Linked DNA regions of Homo sapiens: region 2 is linked to region 1. Evidence: fine-mapped QTL for protein levels in blood plasma. A gene starts in region 1. The other region holds a variant in brackets. All regions are shown on one strand. Distances are from middle to middle.

Region 1 (5,443 bases):
TATTGAGTTTATTCAAACAAGGTTAGGGGTGTTATCAAATGCTTAAACTGAGTTAAAAGGATCATGCAACTTACCATTATTTATTAACTTAAAAGGAACTTCTCTCTCACTTCAGTGAATATTTTTTAAATGCACATTTTAAATGGTGTAAAATAACATAATTAATCCAGTTTTGAATCTTAAAAAGTGTTAGTGTTTTATTAATTTACTCACACAGGTTATCCGAAAAGGATCTTCTGTTCCCCATCATGCTTTTAATAAAATTAACTAGTATAAGAATCTCCATAAACGAAGTACCAAAATGTTTACATTTATATTTCTGAAGCGCTAATAACATGACAAATACATGCTGCACATTTTATGTCTTAACTCACTTAATTCTCCCAAAGAGTCAAGTCCTAAGCGTTATGATCATCTCTTTAAAAAAAAAAAAAATCCAAAAATTGGGTATCAGAGAGGATAAGTAACTTGCTCAAGGTCGTACAGCTAATGAGTGGTGGAACTGGGATTTCAGTGTAGGCCTGACCTGGTTTTAATCACACTGCTGTAACAACACCTGGATTGTTTTTGTGCAAGACTTTCAAAACTGACAGAAGGAGAAGAACAAGAAAAACTCAACTGAGAATGGAAACTCTTAAAAATATAGATTAAAATAATTTGGAGGGTAAAAGCAAATGAAATACTTTCCCAAGGATACCTCTGACAAAATTTGTAAAAAGAGAATTTCCTCTGGTACTAGAAAATTCATGTCCTCTTACTGGGCACTGGCAAATTTGAAAATTCCTCTTCTGCCTTTTGTAGAGCTGGGCGCACTGGGCTCAGACACATTTATCAGCTGCTATCTGGTGACTTCATCATTTTGGTGGAATTTCAAAGAACATTAATTTAGTTATTTAAAAACATACTTCAAATTTTTTTAAAACAATGTAATCTTTCCTTTGCAACTGTTTTTAGAAAAATGTCTAGAATTAGAAACGGCCAAATAACTTCACGATATTATTTTATTCTATTTGTGGTGTTCTTAACAGCTCCCACTCCTCAAAACAACCACACACATCACCAAAAAAATGCACCAATGACAATCTGCCACACTCCTCCCACAACTTGACATTATATGCACTGTACTGCTACCCTTTTCAGCCCGGGACAATGGAGTGTCCAGGCAAGAAGGAAACCACGGGTGACTATAACATTTTCCTTTAGATTTTGTGACATTGGCAAATATGCAGTTGCAACTACCATCAGTTACACAAGTAATGTTCATTTTTTCCTCTACAAGAAAAAAAAAAACAAAACCCAGATGTACTCTTTCACTCTAATTAGGCTTTCACTAATTTTCAGTAAAAAAGACTATGGTGACATATCCTGAAGAAGGAGGTATCCAATAAATATGCACCAACAAAAGAGCAGTGGAATTCCGCGCTGGGTACCGGAAATAGGGCAGCACTAGCGGAGGTGGGGAATGCGCTTCCAAGGGAGGCGGAACGCAGAGGGGATGCGAGATGGAGCCCGGGGAGCTGCCGCAGCGGGCGATGGCCCCGGCCGGCGCCGGCCGTTCTGGTTCGTGCATCTGCCGCTGCGGGTCGCGCGCTCTTACCTCGCAGCCCGCGAACCAGCCTCTCCGCCCAGGCCACTCGGGGCGGCTGCCCTTCCAGGGGGAGGTGGCGATGCAGCGGGTCCCCGCCGCCGACTGGGCTGGGGCACGGCGGGCCCTGGTCCTCTCGCCGGCGCCGCCTCCCGCTCGGGTGGCCCGCGCCGTGGTAGCCCCCAAGCCCCCGGCTCCGCGCGCCCACGGAGCTCACGGCCGAGGAGGCGGCCGACCTCCGGCTGCCCGGGCGCCACTCTACGTCCATCTCCACCACCATTCCGCCTTCTTCCCCTTCCACCTCCTCCTCCTCCTCCTCGGCCTCGAAGCCGGGGTTATCGCGGCTCCACGCCTGCCGGGAGCACGACGAGAGCGGAGGAGAAGGGGAGGCCGCGGCTCCGGCCGGGGGGTCCCGCGCGGCCGCCTGCCGGATGCGCTGCATCTCGATCTCCAGGCCCCGCTGCTCGCAGAGGCCGCCCGGGGCGGCGAGGCTGGCGCCCACGGCCGCGCAGCCAGCCATCAGCCGGCCCGGGTCCGGCGCGCGGGGCGCGGGCGGCCGCTTGGCGTCCCCGGGCTGCTGAGGCTGCACGCGACTGGAGTTCACCATCGCGGTCACTGGCGTCCGGCGCGCGGGTGCGCGGCGCCGCGCTCGGCGCTGTGCGCCTCAGGAGCCATGTTCCTTTCTTCCCGGCGCCCGCCGCCGCCTGCTCCCCGCCCCCGACCTCCCCGCGGTCCCGCGTCCTCTCGCCCGCCCCTTTGGCCCGCCTCCCTCTGGCCTCGCCCCGCCTCGCCCATCCGCCGCGGCGCGCTGAGCGGGGAGGTGCGAGGGAGCCGCCCCCGCGGTCTGCGCGCTCGCCCGGCGGCTCCCGAGTCCGCGTTCCAAGTGGAACCGGAGCCCGGGCGCGGGCGCCCACGTTCCATTCCCGGGAAGGCCTGGGAAGGGAGGGAATCGCTCACCCGCCAGCCCGCCTGCAGGGAAAGGGCTCCTGGAGCTGTCGATGCCTGCCCGACGCTGAGATAACTCTTGGGTCCCAGTTATCCACCAGCCACTTCTGCCTCGATTCACCAAAGGGCAGGGAAAGAACCTTTTGGTGAGATGGTGTGAATTAGCGACATCCAGCCTGAGCTGAAGTCTCCAGCGGGTCAAAGAAATCTTTCCATTTGCAAACTACCAAGGCTGACTTGCTGTGCATTTGGCGGGCCTCCTGCCCCTGATTCTGCTGGTTTGGAGATGCTTTCTCGCTCTTTGGTTGGCTTCTGTCTCCACACATTGTGGGGATCCCAGGGATTCGTCATAGGACTCTCGGATCGCTGGTGCCTCCACTGTGATCTCCGGTCTCCCTGCGGCCAGCACTGACTTCTAGCAACAGAATCCTGCATGAGGGCCTAGGCACAGAACTTTATTTCCACTCTTCTGAACACATCTAATGTGATGCTCTGCAATTGTCTGAAATTTATCCTACCCTAAGTCATTATCTTGTCCCCTTCTCTGGAACCTGCTTCACTTCCCGTATCCCAAGGTGAGGTTTGGGGCTTCGCTGTCCTCCTCACTTCCCAGGCCACTCTTCTTCATGGAAGCCTCGCGGTTTACCCTCCACCGCCTACACCTTATCTTCTTGTTACTTTTGCCCCACAGATATCACCCTGATATGATCTCTGTTTCTCACTCCTGCTGGCTTGATCTTATGTCTTGCATTATTCCGCATTAGAACAATTGATCCCTGTCAACTCCCATCTCTATTCTCCACGTCGGTGTCCTCACTATTTCCAGGTTATATTGCAGAACCAAAGCTGCTTATTTGTCACGTTGATGCTTAGACACCTCTGTGGGCTTCTGGCAGCTGAAAGGATAAAATTTAATTTCTGTGGTTTGGTTTAGTAAATTCTCATAATCTGCTCCTGTATTTGTTTGTTAGGGCTGCCATAACAAAGTACCAGAGACTGGGTGGCTTAACAGAAATTTATTTGCTCACCTTGTCTCTACAAAAAATACAAAAATTAGCCAGGCTTTGCGGTGTGTGCCTTTGGTCCCAGCTATTAGGGACGCTGAGGTGGGAGGATCGCTTGAGCCCGGGAGGCAGAGGATGTAGTGAGCCAAGATCGGGCCACTGCACTCCAAGTGACAGAGTGAGACTCTGTCTCATAAAGAAAGAAAGAGAGAGAGAGAAGAAAGAAAAAAAGAAGGAAGGAAGGAAAAAGAAAAGAAAAATTGTATTTTCTCACGAGGTGTTGGCAGAGTTGGTTTCTTCTGAGGCCTCTCTCCTTGGCTTGCAGATGGCCCCGCTTTTGTGTCCTCACGCCGTCTTCCCTCTTCCCTCTGTATGCGTCTGTGTCCTAATTGTCTATTCTTATACATCATATTGGATTAGGGCCTACCCTCATGACCTTGTTTTCACTTCATTACTTCTGTAAAGACCCTGTCTCCAAGTATGGTCATGTTCTGAGGTAATGGGGGTTAGGACTTCAACACAGAAATTTTTGGGGGGACACAATTTAGCTTTAACAGCTCTTAATGTACTCCTCTAGCATGGCATCCCATGCCATCCATCCACCTTAATGAATTATTCATTTGTTCTCTAGGCACATATAACATGCTGCTAATATTTAGGTAATTATGGCTACCTATTACCTGATCCTGCAGTTTATTAATTTAGATATTCATGTTCTTCTCTTAACTGTGAGCTTCTCAAAGGCAAGACTGGTGGGTCTGGAGCACAGCCCTAGCTCATGCTATTCATCAGTTCATTCTGAAGACATTTCCTGTGCCCTGAATTAAGGTCTGGGCATGTAGAGAGGAGTATGATACAGCCTTGGCCCTCAAGAGGAGACAGACCAAAAATGAGAGATTACCAAGTGGGTTAAGGGTTATGGTGCCTGTCATCCAAGGAACTTCTGAAGCTGAAGATGTCCTGAATAGCACCAGCAGCACTGCAGAGTCGAAGGATTCTTACAGACACATTCCAACAGAGGAGAGCCAGGCCTGGAAAGAGAATGCAGAATCTGAGCCAAAGGGTCCTCTGGAGAATAGGCCTAGTACAATGTTTTCAAATTGTGATCAGAAGATCTCCAGCATCACTTGCAGCTCTTGCTAAAAATATAGATACTGGGTCCACATTCCAACCTTATTGACTCAAAATCTTCCGGATTCCAGTCCTGAAATTCTGAATCTTCACAGGGGATTCTCAGGCATCCAAAGTTTGAGAAGCACCAATGTGTTCCAAATGGAAGAGGTTTCATAAATATTTCCCCCACATTTCTATACTTCACTGTTAGCACTAGTGAGACAATCATCTGGAATCCCAGACTTAGAAGAAAATTCAGTGGTCTTTGAGTCAGGTTACTCTATGCTTGTGCCTGCAGTCACTAATTCGTTGTAAGGACCCTGGAGCCAGACTGCCTGGATTCTGATTTACTCACTACTTCCTAGCTGTGTGACCTTGGGAAAGTCACTTTATCTCCTTGTACCACCAAAGATGAGGATAATGATAATGCCTACCTCATAGGGTTGTTGTGAGGATTAGGTGAATTAATACATGTGTTTTAGTCCATTCGGGCTGCTATAAAAAATATCATGTAGTGGGTGGCTTATAAACGATGAACCTTTATTTCTTACAGTTCTGGAAGCTGGACGGTCCAAGATCATGCTGCCAGCAGATTTGTGGTCTGGTGAGGGTCTACTTTCTGGTTCATAGACTGCACCTCCTAGCTGTGTCTTATGGTAGAAGGGGCAAAAGAGCTCCCTTGAGCTGCTTCTCTAAGGGCACTAATCCCATTTGTGAGGGCTCCAGCCCCATGATGTAATCACCTCTCAGAGGCCCCAGCTCCTTATACCATCACTTTGAAGGTTAGGATTTCAAT
Region 2 (5,000 bases), 44 kb before region 1:
GTGGATATCTAAATTCAAATTTAAATTAAGTAAGATTAAATACAATTAAAAATTCAGTCCCTTGGTCCTACTAGCCACATGTTAAGTGTTCCATGCCTATACATGGTTAGTGGCTACTGTCTAGGACAATGAAAATATAGAACATTTCCATCACCACAGAACATTCTTATTACTATTATTATTTTTGCTGTTTGATTATTATTACTATGTTATGATCAAGGTTTTGTGCTTTAGTGATGGTTTCTCTTGAACAAGCATGTCAATAAATAAATAGCATGAGAAATACAGGATAAAGTCTATGCATTTTTTTTTTTTTTTTGAGACAGGGTCTCACTCTGTTGCCCAGGCTGGAGTGCAGCGGTGCGATCTTGGCTCACTGCACCCTCCGCCTTCTGGATTCAAGCAATCCTCCCGCCTAAGCCTCCTAAGTAGCTAGGACTACAGGCACGTGCCACCACCCCCAGCTAATTTTTGTATTTTTAGTAGAGATGAGGTTTTGCCATGTTGCCCAGGCTGGTATCAGACTCCTGGGCTCAGGGGACCTATCTCGGCCTCCCAAAATGCTGGAATTACAGGCATGAGCCACTGCGCCTGGTCCAAGTCTATGTCTTGTGATAAACCTCAGGTCTTCTAGGTATGAATACCAACTCAGAAAAGTACATAACGGGTAAGTACCTTCCAGAACAGTGCTTTTCAAGAGAACGTTCTGTGATGATGGAAATGTTCTACATTTCCACTGTCCTAGACAGTAGCCATTGAACACTTAATGTGTGGCCAGTAGGACCAAGGAACTGCGTTTTTAATTGTATTTAAGCTTAACTAATTTAAATTTGAATTTAAATAGGCACATGTGGCTAGTACTTACTGTCTGGACAGCACAATCAGAGCCTGTGCTGGTGACCGAATGGCAGCTGCTGCCTGAGAATTATTGAAATTTCCTGCATCTCCAGAATTGAGGCTTGTTGTATATGAAATGTCATAACCTTTCACACACATGGAAATGCACATTATATCTTGGGACAATAAGGAAAATAGTGAGCAAGGAACTATTTGGAAGCAGTGTCTGTTCCAACCTTAATTCTAGGTAAAGCTTCCCTTACAGCCTCTACCTGGAAAAGAGGCGATCCCTTCTAGCAAGCATTTCCAAGTGCAGCAACTCTCCCCTTCCCTCCACCTGCTCCTTCCCTCTCTTTCTCTAAGTTCCTTTTCCTTCACCTGTTCATCTCATCTGTTAGCAGCCTGGGGCCCCAGGCCCAGCTAACACACTGAAAGGCCTCTTACTGCATTTGTTAAACAAAACCTATAGGGACTGATCTTGCACTAATTCAGATAGCAGAAGTATGTCATTGACAGTGAGAGGAATGATCACATGAGTCTCAATAGTTTACTTTATATGTAAAATATGAGGCCTGGCACGGTGGCTCATGCCTGTAATCCCAGCACTTTGGGAGGCTGAGGTGGGAGGATTGCTTGAACCCAGGAGTTCAAAACCAGCCTGGGCAACATAATGAGACCTTGTCTCTACGAAAAAATTTAAAAATTAGCCGGGTATGGTGGCACATGCCTGTAGTCCCAGTGACTTCGGAGGATAAGGTGGGAGGATCGCTTGGGCCTGGGAAGTCGAGGCTGCAATGAGCTGTAATCATACCACTGCACTCCAGCCTGGGTGACAGAGTGAGACCCTGTCTCAAAGTAAATATTGAGCAGCTTTGGCTGGTCACTTGAATTTCAAATTCAAGTATTCCATGATTTTGTGGAACTCATTTTTTTTAAAGAAAATATTATTTAAAATGTAGAACATGAAATTTATAAATTACCTTAATCCAGACAAAAAATACTGTGACAGCAGCTATATTGTTGAACTGTATCTGCCAATATGCCAGATGCTCAAAGTTGGGGAAAGTATTTTGATCTTCCAGAAACTGTAGTAGCACCTCCACATTTGATGTTCTGTATATGTTAATTCCTATAGCTACCACTGACAGCTGAAAAGCAAAATATTTATATTTTATTACAGTGTTTTAGAAATATGAAACTTACCTTAATATGACTAGTATATTTTTCTTCACCAATGTATTAATTATAAGGGCTCACCATTATACTTACCCGATGTCATTCTTA[A/G]AAGTCACTCACTCAAATGGAAAGTGTTAAGCCCTGCCATAAAATAAGTAAAACAGTATATTGCTTGCATTTCCTTAGTTCGGAATAGAAACTCAACGAAGGCATGCATGCATGTGTGTGCACATATACATTACACACACATACATGCATACACAGAAGAGATCACACTATAACAGACTCAAACTCAAAGAGGAATGCTTTCTGTTTTTTCTGCCACCTTCATTTTAATCACTTTCCACCCTTTTGCTTTCTTGCCTTCATCCTGCTGTTTTTATTTGTGATTTTTAAATTTAAAATTTTTCGGTTTCTCTGCATTCTCCAATTGCCAGCCATTCTTTGCTCTGTTTAACAAAAATATAGTAGATGTCTATGTATACAGCACTGTGCAAGGGCTAAGAGGAATAAACAGAAGTAAACTGCATAAATCCTGCCCTCGAGACTCAAGAGCAGATAAACACATGAAGTTAAATAATACAAAAAACTACTAAAGAGTTGGTATCACACAACATAAAGTCAAGAGGGACAAAAGATATCCTAAAAATGAGTGCCCATGAGAACAAAGCATGAGCTTGGGCTTGAAAGACAGTGGGAATGATGAATACAGAGGGCTCAAGAAGGCCTGCAGTGGGAATATATGAGCCAAGGGCTTCTCTCTTGCTCATTTCTGTCCCTTAACTCATGACCCTACAACTTTCCACATATGCTTTGGTTCTAAGCTTTACAATCAGATCCAAGGGGACACTGCCCCCTCCTTGGCATCCATCACCACTAAATGTAGACAGTGCTAGGGGTTAGTCATAACAACCTGGCCCCACCAGGGGGTCTGAATCTGCAGCAGGTGGGCTGTGGCAGGTGCTGCGATCTTTGCTGTCCATTCTCTCTTCTTAGGAATCATGGCCAGAGACCACTTCATTAGCCCTCCCTTCCTGAGATGACCATAGAGATCATGGTCCCACTGATTCTCATAGCAAAGACCAGCTTGGTTGCTGATCACAGCTAAAAAGCCAACCTCACCATCTTCCTTTCCTTCCTTCTCTGTGAAGGATTTCCAGAGCCAATCTTGTATTTTTGTGTTGGTGGTGGGAATGATGAACACAGCAGACTCAAGAAGGCCTGCAGTGGGAATAGGCTTCTCCTGAGATGAGGAGCTCATCTCAGCTAATACATGTAGAAAAACATTTGGGTTGGTGGACTGGATCCAATGGTAACTCTTTACCCAACTCTCAATAGGTATAATTTGTTATGCAGTCCAGTTGTTTTTACTCTGCACAGGACAAATGTTTATAAAATAATGAAGAAGATGGTCATTTATACAACATCAATGTCTTTGAAACCTTTCCTTCCAAATAGGGAATGAAAGATGAGGAAAGAGATTTTGTGAGCATTTGCATTGTTACATCACTCCTGAGTTTTCTGTGGGATTCTCATCCCTATCTACAAAAGAACTTTCTCTCCATACCAGAAAATTGGGAGGGCAGAGATTTGGGTGATTTTGTTCATTCCTGTATCCCCAGTGCCTAGAACAGTGGCAAGTACATAGTAGGTGCTCAGAAAACACTCGCTGAATAAATGAATTAGTCGGGCCAGGCGCGGTGGTTCACGCCTGTAATCCCAGCACTTTGGGAGGCTGAGGTGGGCGGATCACGAGGTCAGGAGATCGAGACCATCCTGGCTAACTCGGTGAAACCCTGTCTCTACTAAAAATACAAAAAATTAGCTGGGCATGGTGGCAGGCACCTGTAGTCCCAGCTACTCAGGAGGCTGAGGAGGGAGAATGGCGTGAACCCGGGAGGCAGAGCTTGCAGTGAGCCGAGATGGTGCCACTGTACTCCAGTCTGGGTGACAGAGCAAGACTCCATCTCAAAAAAAAAAAAAAAAAAAAAAATTTACCCTGTACAACCTAGCAAGTGGTCAATAAATTATTTGAGTTTAAATTCCTTAATAGTCTTCTTTTTTTCAAGTAATTCTTCTAGTTTTGAAAGACTATTGCTCAGGACAAATGGCTGACTGATGCAGCCTGTGTACTTCAGAACATATGTTGGGGAAAGAAAAAAGGAAAATAAAGAAAATTTCAAAGTGATTTCAAGATGTGATTGTATTTATATTAAGAATATAATTTCTTTTCAGGTTTTGGGTAAGCATAAGCAAATTTTGGCTAGATAAAACAAAAAGCGTTGGGTCTTTCCACTGGTTTGAAGGTCCAGTGGAGCACAGGGTGTGTTTTGTGGGTGAGCAGAAGGCATGCCCTCACTTCTACACTTGGTCAGCAAAAGTTTCAAAGGACAAGTGAGATTCCAGTAGCCCTTCCTTGTTCTTTATAAACAAAAAGCACACTGTCTGAATTGTTGTCTGGCAGTATTAAGTGTTGTTTAAAAAAAAAATTGAAAAACACAGTGAAGCAAGTTTTCAAAGAAACACTTGCAAAATGCTGTGGCTGTTGAGCCAAAGAGACAATTTCCATGATATCATTGCCTTTCTTCCTATTGGTCGCCAAAGCAGGTGCAAGGCAATTCACTGGGCTATGGGAAGAAAATGTTACAACTTCTAGGTAGGTGGTAAGAAAGTTTTGGAATTCTATTTGTATTAACTTTTATTCCAATCTTTAAAATTCTATGTATGTGTATGTTTTACGGATGTACCTGTTACACCAAAGTAGGCACACAATTTACAAATAAAGATAATAAATTAGGGTGTGTAGTAGTCAAAGCTTTCACTGATAGGTGTGTATGATCAAAAAGGGTGAATACCACTGACTAGTCTTTTGTTGATATTGAGTTCTTTGGTTAAAATATAAAAAGGAAGTCTGTTCTTAATTAGCATATCATACTTACCTTTCTACCATTATTTCAATGGCCTAAACATAAATAAATCCATATAAG

The links. PIP is the posterior inclusion probability: the model's chance that the variant is causal. Protein levels are from antibody-based Olink assays in UK Biobank. Linkage for the fine-mapping came from a reference panel and not from the study's own genotypes, which makes the PIPs less certain.
Region 2: its variant is fine-mapped to the plasma level of the PKD2 protein (UK Biobank, PIP 0.91).

The regions. Positions count from the first base shown.
Region 1 is chr4:88,004,483-88,009,925 of GRCh38, reverse strand. PKD2 (polycystin 2, transient receptor potential cation channel) reads right to left here and starts at 2,291. Exons shown (of 15, transcript NM_000297.4): 1 at 1,598-2,291. The coding sequence starts at 2,192. RefSeq lists silencers at 1,409-1,548, 1,599-2,528.
Region 2 is chr4:88,048,976-88,053,975 of GRCh38, reverse strand. It overlaps PKD2 (polycystin 2, transient receptor potential cation channel), which reads right to left. Exons shown (of 15, transcript NM_000297.4): 7 at 1,818-1,985. Among named protein-coding and RNA genes, the nearest start is that of PKD2, 44 kb to the right of the region's middle. The variant A/G (reference allele first, on the strand shown) is at 2,122.